Linked DNA regions of Homo sapiens: regions 1 and 3 are each linked to region 2. The links come from fine-mapping of genetic effects on gene expression. A gene starts in region 2. Each other region holds a variant in brackets. All regions are shown on one strand. Distances are between the middles of the regions.

What was found. PIP is the estimated chance that this variant, and not a neighbour inherited with it, causes the effect.
Region 1: its variant is the best candidate, but not a certain one, in a credible set for the expression of NALCN in lung (TOPMed, PIP 0.51).
Region 3: its variant is the best candidate, but not a certain one, in a credible set for the expression of NALCN in tibial nerve (GTEx, PIP 0.52).

What each region holds. Positions count from the first base shown.
Region 1 is chr13:101,327,181-101,332,412 of GRCh38, reverse strand. The region is part of intron 7 of NALCN (sodium leak channel, non-selective); the gene reads left to right. Among named protein-coding and RNA genes, the nearest start is that of NALCN, 87 kb to the left of the region's middle. The variant A/G (reference allele first, on the strand shown) is at 2,775.
Region 2 is chr13:101,414,280-101,419,511 of GRCh38, reverse strand. NALCN (sodium leak channel, non-selective) reads left to right here and starts at 3,004. Exons shown (of 44, transcript NM_052867.4): 1 at 3,004-3,199. RefSeq lists enhancers at 3,102-3,652, 3,653-4,203.
Region 3 is chr13:101,466,662-101,471,893 of GRCh38, reverse strand. All of the region lies in intron 2 of ITGBL1 (integrin subunit beta like 1), which reads right to left. Among named protein-coding and RNA genes, the nearest start is that of ITGBL1, 17 kb to the right of the region's middle. The variant A/G (reference allele first, on the strand shown) is at 2,250.

The DNA of each region.
Region 1 (5,232 bases), 87 kb after region 2:
TTTTTTTTTTTTTTTGGCTTTGTGAATTTGGGTTTTTTTTAACATCGTTTTTCTCTGGTAGTTTTTAAGATTTACCCTTTGTCTTTGCTGTCTTATGGTCTTAGTATCCTGTGCCTAGGCATGGATTTTTATTTTTTATCTACTGTGAACTCATTCTCTGCATATGAGACTCATGCCTTTCTTCAATTCTGGAAGGTTTTTAGGTATTATCTTCTCAAAACAGCTCTCTTCTCCATTCTCTCTATTCTTTGTTTTCTGGAATACTGATTAATATTTGTTTTTATCATATTTTTTATTCTATCCTCCATGTCTTTAAATCGTGCTTTCTAACTTCCCTCTATTTTCTTGACTTCTCTTGTTACCACACAATGGGCGGGTTCAGTTGCTTGGCAGGTGGGAGTCCAATGACCACAACCAAGGAGGATTTAACCAAGGGATTTCATTACTGGCAACAAGTAAGTAGAACACTGGGGATAGTTCCCAAAGCAGTGCCTCCCCAGACACAGGTGGAAACAGGGCTTTGTGGGGGCTGCTTAGCTGAGTCACTGTGTGCAGAGGTGGAGTGCAGGCAGGCACAGCTGTTGTTCATGCTTCTTCATATGTTGCCCATACAGAAAATGGCACATAAGCTCTTCCCTGGGCAGGGCATTTAGTATGGTAAGGTGAAGAGGTCTCCAAAGTTCATCTCCAGCTCAGGCATCCCCGGATGCCTGGGACCAGTTTTTTGTGTTTGTTCTTTGTTTTGCAGGGGCTCGGCTTCTTCCTAGAACACTTTTAAACAACGGAAACTCAAGGTGCAACAGTTAAAAGTGGATAGTTCTTCACAGTGTGTACCCAAAAACCCAGGGACCCTGGGTTACACTCTTGATCCTTGATTAGTTGCACAAGGAATCTTCTATCATTCTCTGTCCCTCCAAGAGTTGTTTACGTATTTTCAAGCTCAAATTCTTTGCTGAACTCTTAATTTTCTCTCAGTGTGTCTAGACTGCTATTTATTTATCGAATTTTCAATTCCAACATCTATAATTTTTATACCTAATATTTCTATCTAATTCTGTTTCAAACCTGCCTGTTCTTTTATCTTAGATTCCTGTTCTTGCTGTTTTCTTTCTAATCTTTTCTTCATCTCACCAAACATTTTAAACATGCTTATTTTAGAATTTGTTTCTAATGCTTCCATATTTTCTAACTCTCCTTTACAATAGTTCATTTTCTTGTGTGGTTTATAATATTGGCTATGAGCTCATTTCCACTGGCTATGAGCTCATTTTTCAGGGGTACTCTGGCCTGAACTGTGACTGGGGTTGTGTTTGCTGCAGTTTCATGGATATCAGCCGTTCTTACTGATACTCGTGTTACTTTTGTGGCTTAAAGAATATATTAATGTGTTCTCATGCTGCTAATAAAGACATACTTGAGACTGGGTAATTTATAAAGAAAAAGATTTAATAGATTCACAGTTCCACATGGCTGGGGAGGCCTCACAATCATGGCACAAGGTGAAGAAGTAAAGGTATGTCTTACTTGGTGGCAGGCACATCTTACATGGGGGCAGGCAAGAGAGCCTGTGCAGGGAAACTGCCCTTTATAAAACCGTCAGATCTTGTGAGGCTTATTCACCATCATGAGAACAGCACAGGAAAGACTCGCCCCCATGATTCAATTACCTCCCACTGAATCCCTCCCAGGACACATGGGGATTATTATGGGAGCTACAATTCAAGATGACATTTGGGTGGAAACACAGCTAAACCATATCAGGGAAGGAGAGGTCCTTGAACTATTTGCATTATGGGGGCACTGTAAAATTAGACTACACACTTCAGTTGGCCCAGGTCTGGATTCTGATTTCTCTGAGGAGACTCTTTTGCCCCGCATGGATCTGGACAGAAGTCAAGCAACATTCTGCTTTTTTCTGAGCTGGAGGCCAGGGTTCTTCCAGTCCAGATAAAATGCAGAACAATCCTTTGTAACACCCAGCTTTGTAGAGACACCTCAGCTCCAACTTACTGTCTTATATTAGGTGCCTCCCAACTCCTCTCTCTATTGGGACCCAGAAGCCCTGAAGATTTATATTGACTCCAAGTACATCTGTGAACCATTTGGCTTCAGCTGCTGCTCACAGCTCTGATTTTATATTCTCCCAAACTCTCTGACCGCTGGATAGTTTGCTCATGTAGCTTTGAGATAATTTATACATTCAAAACTTACTCTCTTTTATCTATTTCCTTGTGTTGATTTGGCATAGGGTGAGGAGGGTAAGGGAAAAAGGTGTCTAAATAAGCATAGTCCAACACATTGACCTAAAGCCCATATATATATATGCTGCTAATAACATTATATATATGTATATATATATTATATATAATTTTTTTTGAAACAGTCTCTCTCTGTCACCCAGGCTGGAGTGCAGTGGCATGATCTCAGCTCACTGCAGCCTCCTCCTCCCGGGTTCAAGCAATTCTCATGCCTCAGCCTCCCAAGTAGCTGGGACTACAGGCGTGAGCCACCACGCCCGGCTAATTTTTATATTTTTAGTAGAGACAGGGTTTCACCATTTCGGCCAGGCTGGTTTAGAACTCCTGACCTCAGGTGATCTGCCCACCTCAGCCTCCCAAAGTGCAGAGATTACAGGTGTGAGCCACTGTGTCCAGCCTATGTTTTTATATTTTTAGGATTCCCATGTAATGATGCAATTTTCCTTTCTTTGATATGATGCATCTATGATTTTATATTCTAAATGTATTTTTATACTTATATATAAAATGCATTTT[A/G]TTAATTAAGCATTAGTTCTTAAAAGTTGGTATTTCCTTGAACTTTTAATTTTACAAATATTCCATTTCGGTGTTATTATTTTTAGTATTTTTTTGCTGCTGAATAGTTATGCCAACCTCTGTGCAGCCTGGGAAGACAACACATCAGCAGTCAATTTGTGTAAAGACAAAATAATATTAGAGAGCAAGAGAATGAGACAAGACTGCAAATCAGCAATAATAATTATTGAGTACTGAGAACAATTCCAGTGGATTAAGATTTGGGATGCTTAAGCTTCTTAATATTAATTGCAGCAAATATTCAAATGCTTTCACTTTCCATATAAGTACTTCAGCAAATAAGCAAAATATGAAATAAAAACCCTAATTCAGAATTACCTAAATATAAAACAAGTAAATTGTCCTAGGCAATTCTTACCATCTTATGTCCAGTAAAACAATAACCTATATTTGTGCATACAGATATATTATCTCATTTAAAAACTAGCGGTGATTGTAAATCTTGACACCAAATTGAAGTTGAACTGAAAGAGGCTTTCCTGTAAAGATACTTAGGATCCTTACATTGTATGTAAGGAAAGTCACCTAGTCCTCACATCAACCCCAGGTGTGACATGTTATTAACTTATTCTAATGGTACAGATGTTGAGATGCAGAGAACAGAAGCAGCTCTTAGGGGACAGAGACAGGGCTCAGTGATGATTATATTCACCTGTCATGGGGTAGAGCTACAATAGTGAGTATTCTGTGGATGGTCCTATCCAGATAAAAGAAGGAATTGGTTTCAGGACATAGTCTGCATCTTACTAGGTGGGGAATGTTGGACAAGTTACTTAACCTCTTCTGCCCTGTAAAATAGGGATAAAAATGGTACATATCACAGAGTGTCATAGGAAGACTAAAGTAGACTATTCTCATCCTCACACCTAATGAGTTCTCAATATTTAACTGATTATAATTATCTTTACTAGATACATAATTAAGTAAATAAATTAAGGAATTATAGAGCAAATAGTCATAGGGTCACACAGATAGAAAGTGGGAAAAATAGGAGACAAACCTATGTCTATATTCATTCCATGGCATTAGATTTAGATTGCCTCCTTTTAGTCTGGCAAAACACTCATGATTATACAATGTAATTTAAAAATATACAGTACTTTGCTGGGTGTGGTGGTGCATGCCTGTGGTCCCAGCTACTTGGGAGGCTGAGGTGGGAGGATGGCTTAAGCCTGGGAAGCAGAGGTTGCAATGAGCCGAGATCACGCCACCGCACTCTAGCCTGGGCTGTAGAACGAGATACTGTCTCAAAAAAGAAAAAAAAATACAGTACTCACATTTTACTTTGCTAGTATATGCTGTATTCACTGGTGTATGCTCTCTTGCATGGAGACTTTCATTGGGAATAAAATGTTTGAAACTATTTTACTATTTCTTGCACTGCTTTGAGATACTACCAGCAAAGCTATTTCTAAGCTGAGACGCTATGTCCTGGCAGGACTTCTAAAGACTTAAAGCAATGCTGTAGCTGTGTATTTACAACTGACTAGAGCAGGGATCAGCAAACCATGGCCAGTGGGTCAAATCCTGCTTACTGCCAGTTTTTGTAAACAAAGTTTTATCGCAACTCCCTGCCCATTTGTTTAGACATGGTCTGTGGCTGCTTTTCTCCAACAGCAGAAAAGTTCAGTAGTTCCAACAGAAACCCTGAGGCCCATAAAGCCTAAAATGTTTACCATCTGGCCATTTACGGAAAGTTAGCCAACCCCCAGACTAGAATAAAGGTAGGAAAAACCACTCAGCCCAAGCTTCTTTTTTGATTCTATCTTCCCACAGCTGCCTAGAATCCTTTGCAGTCTTTATCCTAGGAGGCTCAGAGGCTATAACACATCTCTAATTTTGTCTAGATTTGTGAGAATCCATTTCTCACAAATCCAGTTCTGGCCCTCTTTCCCTGACTCGATGTTCCTTGAACTCTAAACATGAATTTTTAAAAGAAGGATTACCTGGGATGGGTATATCCCTGAAAGTCACCTCCTTTCTGCTGCCTCTCACAAATACACAGGCTATGTGCCTTAAACCTGTCATTCACTTTAAGGAATTTTTGAAAAGTGGATAATAGGTTAGACATAAAATTCACTGAATCTGGGTTAAATTTAATCAGTGAGTATTCTTTAGAATGGAAGCATGAGCCTGAATGATTAAAGAAATTGCTTAAAAAATTAGAATCAAAATACTAAATATCATCCCCCCCAATGTTTTAGCTAGAAAAATTACTTGAAAATGAGCCAGAGAAGGAGAAAAATAATTATCTTACAGAAAACTAATAAAAATACAATAAACTATCATTTATTTAAATACAATAAACTATCATTTGTTAAAATACAATAAACATGCAAAAGCGCTATCATTGATAGCACTTTTAATGTTTAAATAACCCACTGATTACTTTCTCTAG
Region 2 (5,232 bases):
CACGGTTCCCCATGGCTGGGGAGGCCTCACAGTCATGGTGGAAGGCGAAAGGCACGTCTTACACGGCAGCAGACGAGAGAAAATGAAGACCAAGAGAAAGGGCCTTATAAAACCATCAGATCCCATGAGACTTATTCACTACCACAAGAACAGTATGGGGGAAACTGCCCCCATGATTCAATTATCTCCCACCAGGTCCCTCCTACAACACATGGGAATTGTGGGAGCTACAATTCAAGATGAGATTTGGATGGGGACACAGACAAATGATATCACATCCATTCCAAAGCACTTGCAGGACCATGAACACAATTTCATTTAAACCAAAGGCTACTACTATCTTGGTTGTGCATTGGCTTGGCTTCATCCTCTTTATTGTAAAACTTTCTGTATTGACTGCTTTCTCTGTGTTTGACATTATCCTTTCCCCAATCTCATACCGTCAAATACAGATTTAATTGTATAGGCTCCTACATGCAAACACCTTCCAGGGCCAGGAATTGAAGCAGGCTGGGGACATGGAGGCAAATGGGAAGTATATGCCCACCTATGGGAGGCACAGGATGCCCCTATTGGCCCCCTACCACTTGGGAATGCAGAACTGACCTGGCCAGATCTTCCTTCCTTTTTTTTTTTTCAAGACGGAGTCTCACTCTATCACCCAACCAAGCTGGAGTGCAGTGGCACAATCTCAGCTCACCACAACCTCTGCCTCCCCAGTTCAAGTGATTGTCATGCCTCAGACTCCTACAGGTATGGTGGCTTACGCCTGTAATCCCAGCACTTTGGGAGGCCAAGGTGGGTGGATCACCTGAGGTCAGGAGTTCGAGTCCAGCCTGGCCAACATGGCAAAACCCCGTCTCTACTAAAAATACAAAAATTAGCTGGGCATGGTGGAGGCTGCCTGTTATCCATATCTTCCTATTTTTCCTGATAAAATAAAATTCTTGTGGTTTTCAAATGTTGGTAATTGATCTTAATTTGTCAACAATATACATTGAGTCATACAAAACACACCTGAATTATATTCTCAGTTTATATTGAACCCACAGGCCAGCAATTGACTTTTACTGGATTCCAGCAATGAATGTAGTTACAGGGCCAATTCAACCTGGAAAAGATATTTGTTCATCCTTTCTACTTTTGCTTTGAGGATGCAGTGAGCTATAATCACATCAATGCACTCCAGGCTAGGCAACGGAGATAGGCCTTGTCTCTAAAAATAACAAAGAAAACAAAAGAAGAGAGATACTGAGCAGGTAGAAGGGGTACTATGATATTTTGGATGTACCTGTTTTTTAAAATGATTGTCTACTCCAATACACAGTGAATCCCTATGCATTATAGGATGAGTGTGCTGGATTCCATGACTTCCTTGAAGCCCATGAATTCTCTGAGACTGTCTCCATCATCATTGGGATTGTTTGGCTCATGAGCATGAATTATAGAGACTTAACAGAGGTAGTTCAACCAAGGACAGAGAAAGGTCTGAAATGCCTGTTGGGTGAGGAGTGGCACTGAGATTAGTAAAAAATCACTGCCTTGACCACTTCAAAACATTATAAATAAATGTTTAAATATTTCCTTAATATAATTTACTAACAGATAATTCGAACGAATGTCAAGGAATAACACACTATCATTCAGCTACCATATATATATAGCTATATATTTCAGTTTGTGAAATAAACTAGTATTTAGAACAAGCAATTGAAAGCCGCAAATAAAGATGATGAAACAAGTTGGTAAATACTTTTTCTAAGCAAACTGGTTGTAGATTTAGCATTGTTTAAATTACTGTCAATTTTTTCTTATGAGGAGTGATTTCATCATTTGTTTAAAACCTGGCTTTTGACACAGTTTTTCTGAAGTCTTTAGAAATTTGAAAAATTATCTCGCATGACTCTGTATTTCATGAAATACCAATATTTTAACATTTCCCTGTAAACAATAAAACGTACTAATATGGATTATGAATGTGAACAAATTGTGAATGGACTTTTTAAGAAAGTAGATTAATTAAATATCTGTAACCAGAAAATACATTTTTAAAATGTAGGTTTGTGTAGTTTTACTTCTATACCTTGCCACATAACATTTTGTGATAGACAAATGCTCTTTGTTTAGAATTTCTCTTGTAGAGAAAGCTTCATTCAGTTGTTTCTTTCCCTTTATTTATATGCCTGTGTGCATGATGTCTAAATCACTGGTCAGGAGTTCCCTGGGGATTTTCGTATCTGACTACATGGCAAGATTCCAGACCCAAAGTAAACCTTTCAGAGAGTGGGAATGAGTGGGAGGATGTCGCCCTGGGCATGGTGCTTAGGAGGCCAGATTTCCCTAAACCTGCTCTGCTGGGAGCCCTAGGAAGCCTCAGATGCAGTCTGCTGTCCAGGTATACTCACAGGGTATGGGGTGGGGGACTGTCAATTTCTGAATAGACTTTGTCTCATCCACACGACAACATATTTTAATTTTAAAGGCGAACGTCAACCTATTTAGAAAACTATAAGTGTGACTGATGCATTCATTATTTAATAACTCCGGGGTGAAACTTGAGGTGAACGGTTTCACCCTTTCATACTCAGGAATGGAACTAGTCCTCGGTACCGTGCACAGTCTGACCTCACGCTCGCACGCTGGGCTCCCGGCCTCCTGGCAGTGCACTTAAGTGTACCCCGCGTGTGCCCGGCGGACTCCCGTGCACACCGCCGCCGTGCTGTTGAGTACGAAAGACCCCCGAGAGGAGCTCGCAGATGAGAGCCTAGCTGTTGCTGTGAGACTGACTGCGGGTGGCAGCCGGCAAGAAGGAACTGCCAGTACCGACCCTGGCGCTCCCCACCAACTGCGGCGCAGCCTCCTCTGCGGTGCCCGCCCTTCGGCATCACTGCAGTCCCTGTAGCAAAGCTAACTTTAAAAATTTAAATAAAATAATAATTTTTTAAAGGCCCGAAAACTCCGGCTCCCACCCCTCCCCCAGCCTGCCCGGCGGCGGCGGCGCTCAGTGAGTGACACGGCGAGCGTGAGCCGCGGCCCCAGCCGGGCCGAGCGCGCTGCCTGAGCTGAGCCGCCGTAGGTGAGGGGCCCGCGTCCCCGCCCGCCCTGGGCGCCGCGCCTGGCACTGATCCTGCCGGTCGCCCACTGTCGCCGCCGCCGCCGCCCGCGGGCACCATGACAGCTCTGAGCGCTGGGGTTACAGGTTGGTCACCGCCGCCGGTGCCCGGGAGGCTGCGGCGCGGCCGGCTCCGTGCCCTGCGCCCGAGGCCCGCGATGCGCGCTCGTTAGTTCCTTGGCCGGTCCGGGCCAGGACGGCTCAGGGGCGCTGGGGCTGCGAGAGGGGCTGCTAGAGGGGCTGCGGGCGGGGGCCCCGCGCGGGGGAGGGGTGGGGAGGGGCGCCTCCACCCGAGAGCGGGGCGGTGGGGTCCTTGCCGGCCTGGCCGGGGCGCGGGAGCCGCGATGCGCCCTCCCTATTCCTGCGCGTGGGTGTCGGGGGCGCCTGCCGCGGGATGCCCCTGGGCTGGCTTGGGAAGCCCAGGGCCGGCGACACCTCGGGCCTGCCCCGCCTGGGCATCTAGCAGGTGTTGGGGGGCAGGTGGCTGAGGACGAGGCCACTGGGCATCACTACAGCGCTGCACCTGCCCCCTCGGCACCAGGGCCGCTGCCTGGGTAAACCTCTGGGCCAACGCGCGGGTGGGGAGGTGGGGGTGGGCAGCCTGGCTCCAGCAGGTCTCCGCGGGGGCTCCGCGGCCTTGCCCCACCCCCATGCTCCTGTGGATTGCTCCTTGCTAAATGTCCCTTATGATATTCATTGGCCTTGTTAAGCAGCCGTCATTAGGGTGGCTACACCGAACGCAAAACAGTGTCCTGCCAAGCAACACCATTTTGTCACTGAATCTTTAAGACACCAGCAAGGATGGCCTGGCTGGGATCCCTCTGGGGGCCCAGATCGCAGTCATTTTGCTGACTTAATGTTCCTCTTTCAGGATGGTGTGAGAATGCTGAACTCAGACCCTTAGTGCTTGAAATACCTTAGAATAAATCTTTCAGTTTCAGGTACAATTTTTCAGACACTGTATTATTAAGGATGTGTGAATACACGCTCACTTTCAGGCCTCAGAAGGTTTTACTCTTAATCTGGTGTTCGTGTGGTCATCAGCTAGGCCCGACTGCCCTGGTGGTGAAATGTGGGTTGAGGACCAGTGACCTTCGTGTTAGTAGTTGGTGGATAACACCTCTAATAGGGGATCAAAAATTAACAGGTGGCGATTTTGAAATATATATGTATGTATATATATATATATATGTGTGTGATTTGTATGTTCATAACTACAACTGTGATTTGATATGGCCTGGGAGAGGAGCGGTTTCACTATGGTAGTTACCCCTGAGGCAGATGCATCTCAGGACTGGCTTTTTAAATTCAAAGATAAGGTTTCCACAGTTCTAAATAAAAATCATGGCTTCCCAAACATCTGCAACGAGAAACATTTACTCCCTAACTGGTTGGCTGTCATTCTGCGTGCTTTTCTAGAGTCGATTTTTCGTTCTTCTGTAGTATACTTTGACCTAGCCACTGCTAAAACCAGACAGTGTGAAGACAAAATCCAGCTTTGGAGAAAAACTTAAAAAGTGAAAAGGTTCAGTTGGATCCTCTTCTGTGTTCATAGAAGACATAATCTGTTTGCAGAATAAATGTGCCGTCACTGATAAGGACTATGCTAAAATCTCTACAGAACTCTAGGAGAAAGCATGTCTTATAAAATAGTGGTTGTACACTTATAACTTTGGATAGGACTTGCAAGATATTCAAAGGAGAAATGTACTTAAAAAATGTACTTAAAAAAAGTCTACTCAAAATAGTGTCATTTAGTTGCAATTTAGTGAACTGAAGATTTGAGTAGCATTTTCTTCTTCTTGGGTATGGCATTTCTTTGAAATGGTTTCCAGGTGATTTTATCATTCCGGCATGCTTTGTGTGTGCATGTATGTGTATACACAAATGTACACATTTGTTTTATCATTTATCGATGATGTTCAGATAATTTCAGAATTTCCATAGCTGTATAAATTTATCCCAGGTCAGAGTCACATGTGGATTTCAAGTTTGTGAATGAAAATTCACATCTACACCTCTATATCCTAAGATAAGCTAAGCACTGGGCCAGAAGCTGGGTGGTGAGTGAGAAAAAGAGATAAACTGAGAGCCTAAGAATCCTTCAGGAAAGACAAATA
Region 3 (5,232 bases), 52 kb before region 2:
AATCCTACTGATGGTATTACTGCTGTGAGCTCCTCACTCACTCCCACCATGCAGAGCAGAGATATCTGGCTTGGGCCTGTGGCTCCTTTTGCCCAGTGATGTTTGGATATAAAGTGCATGTTATTGGTTCAGAGTCAAAGATTTAAGAGATCTCAAGTATTTCGTCTCACTTTCTAGTGCTCCTGTGATCCACAATACCGAAAACGTAGCTTGGGTAGCATAAAAATAACGTGCAGCAGAATGCAGCCAGCCTTCAGCCTGAAGTCCAGGCTTGCCTAGCTGAGTTGTAGCTCATTTGCACACCCAAGAGTGAGAAATATATATACACACACACACACACACACACACACACACACACACATACATACACACACACACACACATATATATTTGTGTTGCCTTTCTGTAAGCCACTAAATGTTGTGGTGGTCTGTAATGAAGCATTCTTGAAGCAATAACAACAAAGACCTAAGAGAAAATCTTACAGAAAATCAGATACTATTCCTGCCCTTGAGGAGTATATAATTTAATCATAGTGACATGGGAATGGCCTGATAATACTGATAACAAAAAGAAGTTGCTGTTGAGGATTTATTACCTGCAAGGGAGTTTTCTCAATAATAACACTATGATAAGAGGAAACAGAGGCACAAGCAAATCAACTAACTTCCCAAAATCGAGCCAGTTTTGGAACCCATATAGTCTTTCTCCTTCAATCTCCTCAGCATTCTCCCTCTCACACTTTCACATATGAAAATGACATTTAATTATGGTAGATTAATAATGCATGTGATAATTCAAAATTCAGAAAAGAGATTTAATACTTCTTGGGGCATTTGTTAGCCAGTGTCACTGTACTAAATGGTGTAACTTAATAACAAAGTGACTGATTGCACAGTTTTTATTTCAGACAACATGTGATCTTAAACATTTTATTTAATCTTTTTGAGGCTCATGCTTTTATCTTTAGAATGGTAAGATGATATTTGTTTATTGGGAGAATTTAACACCACACAAGAAGGATGTAGCAATTCTAAATAAATGTTAGCTGTATTATCATTACCTTATTTCAAATTAAGAATAAGCATATAGGATGATTATAATTAAATAGATTTTTAAGGGCACCCCATAGAATGTTGTCCTACTAGAAAAGGAATTTTTTTCCAGACTATTGCTATTCTCTTCTAAACACCACCCCTCCACCCCTCCCACACACACCTCATTCATTAGTTGTTCTTCAAAGTCATGGCTCTCTTGCTAGGTTGCCTAGTTGACTTTCATATAAAGGGCAGCAGAGACTATTATGGTTTTTGATAACTATACACCCAGAGGGTAAATGTTGAGATGCACACAAATATCATTATTTCATTGTGCTTTAACAGACTGTGTGCATATAGTTGGGGAATTAAAGACAAACACCACGTCTACTTTATAAAATAGTAATGCATAGGCAGGAGAATCACTGGAACCCAGGAGGTGGAGTTTGCAGTGAGCCGAGATCGCGCCACTGCACTCCAGCCTGGGTGACAGAGCGAGACTCCATCTCAAAAAAAAAAAATAAATTAATTAAAAAAGGAATAAAATAGTAATGCCTATATTATACTATCTTTCAAGCACTGGACATGCATTAAATAATTATTTATGGATATGAAAGTTCTTAAATCCTCAAGGAAAGCAGAGCTTCCAAGGTTAGCTAAGGTAACAGAATATTTCGTTTTGCAGTCAACTGTAAGAAAACAAATTCTTTCCACCCTCTTATCAAATCTACAGTAACTGGAGATCCAGCTCCTGTTGCCATCTGATGGCTGAAATCTCACAGCTAATGAGGCTAGGTCTGATCATAAGATTTCCCTGTTCTTCTCTAGACATCCTTCTGGAGATGTTTAATAAGTGCCTTTTGAATTTAACTGAACTGAGGCTCAGAGAAGTTACGTGATTTGTGCAAGATCACACAGGCAGCAACAATAGCGGAGAAAGATCAAACAGCTTTGTTTTTTAATTCCAATTCCCAAGCATTTTCCAGAGCATTCTGCCTCTGCATTTTCATCCTACCCAAACCTGCCTGCTTAGTTTTCCCAAGGAAAAGATTGTTAAATTCAGTAAAGACTGTACTATCTTTTAATAAAAGATCAGCGCATTGCCACTCATAGGTCTTAAAATACAACATCTGTTTTTGTGGTGTTTTTTGTTTTTGTTTTTTTATAGATGGAAAGATGGAGTTTCACTCTTGTCACCCAGGCTGGAGTACA[A/G]TGGTGTGATCTCAGCTCACTGCAACCTCCACCTCCCGGTTTCAAGCAATTATCCTGTCTCAGCCTCCCAAGTAGCTGGGATTACAGGCACCCACCACCATGCCCAGCTAATTTTTGTATTTTTAGTAGAGACAGGGTTTCACCCATGTTGGCCAGGCTGGTCTCGAACTCGTGACCTCAGGTGATCCACCTGCCTCGGCCTCCCTAAGTGCTGGGACTACAGGCATGAGCCACAGCGCCTGGCAACAACTGGTGTATTAACAGGGATATTTGAAATATTGAAAGACCACAATATCCAGAATCCCAGGTAGGCAGGATGTCCCCATAAGCCTTCATATTATGACCCACGGTCCACCCATTCATTTCCAAGATGCAAAGTGAACCTACATGATGATCCATTCAAAACTGTTCAGCTTTCTGTAAATGCCTTTCTTCTCTCTCTTTGCAGTATTGTTGGCTCGCATAGCTTTGATCTCAAAAAGGCTATACGTATATTAAAACCTGCATGTGTTTAAATTTTTGGAGCTCACTTTATGAAATGTAATGTTATAAGAACAAAAGAGAATCTCTGATGTGACTTATTCGTAATAGCCAAAATATGTAATACACAAAATAATGTAAGGTAATGCCCAAGGAAATAACAAATATGTAGATTCAACTCTCCTACCTACCTTTTCTTTCACTTTTATAGACAAGAAAAATTAGGTTATGGAGGAGTTCCTTCAAAGGCTGACTCAGGAGGATCCTTCTTATTTGGATATGGTTGATGTTAAATGCAATCTCTCTAAAAACTTCAACTACAGCTGAGAAAATGCTCATTATCAGTACGACAAGTAATTTTGTCCCAGTGATTTCGGCTATCTCACTTTCTTTAACATGAGATGCATAACGGGTTCTTTTGCCCAGTACTTTCTTACCATTTGAGCTTTTACATGCACTCTCTAAGACAAAAATAAGAATCAAAATCTACTTTTCCAAAAAGAAGTTATATTTTTAAATGTAAATAAAGTTTCTGAAAATTATGTTTTTCTTTCAGTACTCCAAAATTCATGAAGAAATTATCCCTACATATGTGCTTTTAGGATAATTTTACTATAATGCTGAAGAAAACCCTTCTATTGATTTGGGGTGGGAGGAATTTCTCCTCAGGCTTACTTAGCACAATAGTTGGAGGATAATTGTTTTGACTATCTCTTAAAAGTTATTATAAAAAGTGAATGAATTCATATGTATGAAAATATTTTCCAGCATACTATACTCAAATATAGGTAGATACTACTCTTACTCATTTGTATTTCTAATGTAGCATTAATTTCAAGGCTTAAAATTATCCAAACAGGCAACTGAGAGAAGTCTCTCGAGCACATAGTTAACAAATCAAATACTTTCTTTCTTGAAGCAAGTGAATTATTTCCATGTCAAGACAGCTCTTAGAGCTCATATAACTAATGGTGTTGCCCAGGAAAGAAAAGAAAATAGTCTATAACTTGTCTTTTGTATTTTGGAGAGGAAACTGCTTAAATGGCCAAGTCACTTTGTTTATAAAAATAACTAGTTTTGTCTAACTATTTTGCTCAGCAGAAAATGATAGCTTTGAAAAAGCAGTAATGAACAATTAGGAAATGCATTTACCACGTTTTCATTTTCTGATTTTGGCTCCTTACTCTACCCCATTGACTAAGTCATGAATTTACAGTTAATACCTTGCCGTAAGAGAAGTTTTTAAGCAATGCCCAAACTCATTGACCTCTTTTAAAAAAAAAAATTTAGCCTACCTTTCCCTAGGAAGTTTCCAGATAAAATAACAGAACAGGAAACTAGAGTGGGTAGGTATTCACTTTAAATAATTCGGTGTTTGAACTAGTGACTATGTACAAACAATTACAACGATAGGGCTCTTGGTACAGGGACTGATTTTATCGTATAACCTAAGAGTGGGGTTGTACAAAGTCAAATCAGTAAGCACCCTTATAAAAGTCTTATTTTTCTTTTCTCTTTATAAAGCCCTCATTCTTCTACCCAGCCTTAAGTAAGATGATTTAGAGTAGACAGGAGAATGACTTCTATTACAAAATATAGTTTCTTATTTGCCAGGAAATGTGATTCTTGGAAAGACAAAGCACTCCTTTTCCAAAGAAAATGAGATTTGCAACCCCCATGCAGCTCTCTATCTTTATCAATTTAGAAGTTATTAGAAAATAGCTTGAGAATTTACCCACGTAGAGTCCCAAAAACGCCCTGGTAAATTCCCCTGATACTCTCAGTCTAGCTGTACCAGACTTTTCCACCTTCTTAGATGTGACTCTTGCCTTTAAATCTCAGACCAGGTTTGGAAGCTAAATTTCCCAAAGGACAAAGGCTTCAATATCCCCGTCCCACTGATGTGAGGTTTCCCTTTGCCAAGGTCAGCTAGTAGACCGGCTGCTATGATATAAATATTGACCCATATTTTGGAACCTAATCCCCAACGTGACAGTATTAAGAAGGTGGGTGGGCCTGCAGGAGGTGATTAGGTCATGAGCACTCCAGGCTCATTAGTGGGATTAGTGCCCTTATAAAAGAGGCTTGGGGGAGCCTGTTTACCCCTTCCAACATGTGAGGATACAGTTGCCATCCAGGAAGCTGAAAATGAGCCCTCACCATACACTGAATCTGTTGGCACCTTGATTCTAGACTTCCCAGCCTCCAGAACTGTGAGCATTAAATTTGTCCTGTTTCTAAATTACTCAGTCTAGGGTATCTTGTTACAGCAGCCTGAATGGACTAAACCATCTACCCTGCAACAAATTCTAAAGGAGTCCTTCCTTCGGGTTGACATAAAAGGACACTAGACAGTAATTCAAAACCATACAAAGCAGAGCTCCAGGAAAGATCGATCTGTACTGTTTACTCAGAACTGTGCTAAATACCTATTTTTTGTGCTAAATATTTTTGTTTTTAGTTTCCAGAAAAATATGTGAGATGGTGCTAGTATTCAGAATAT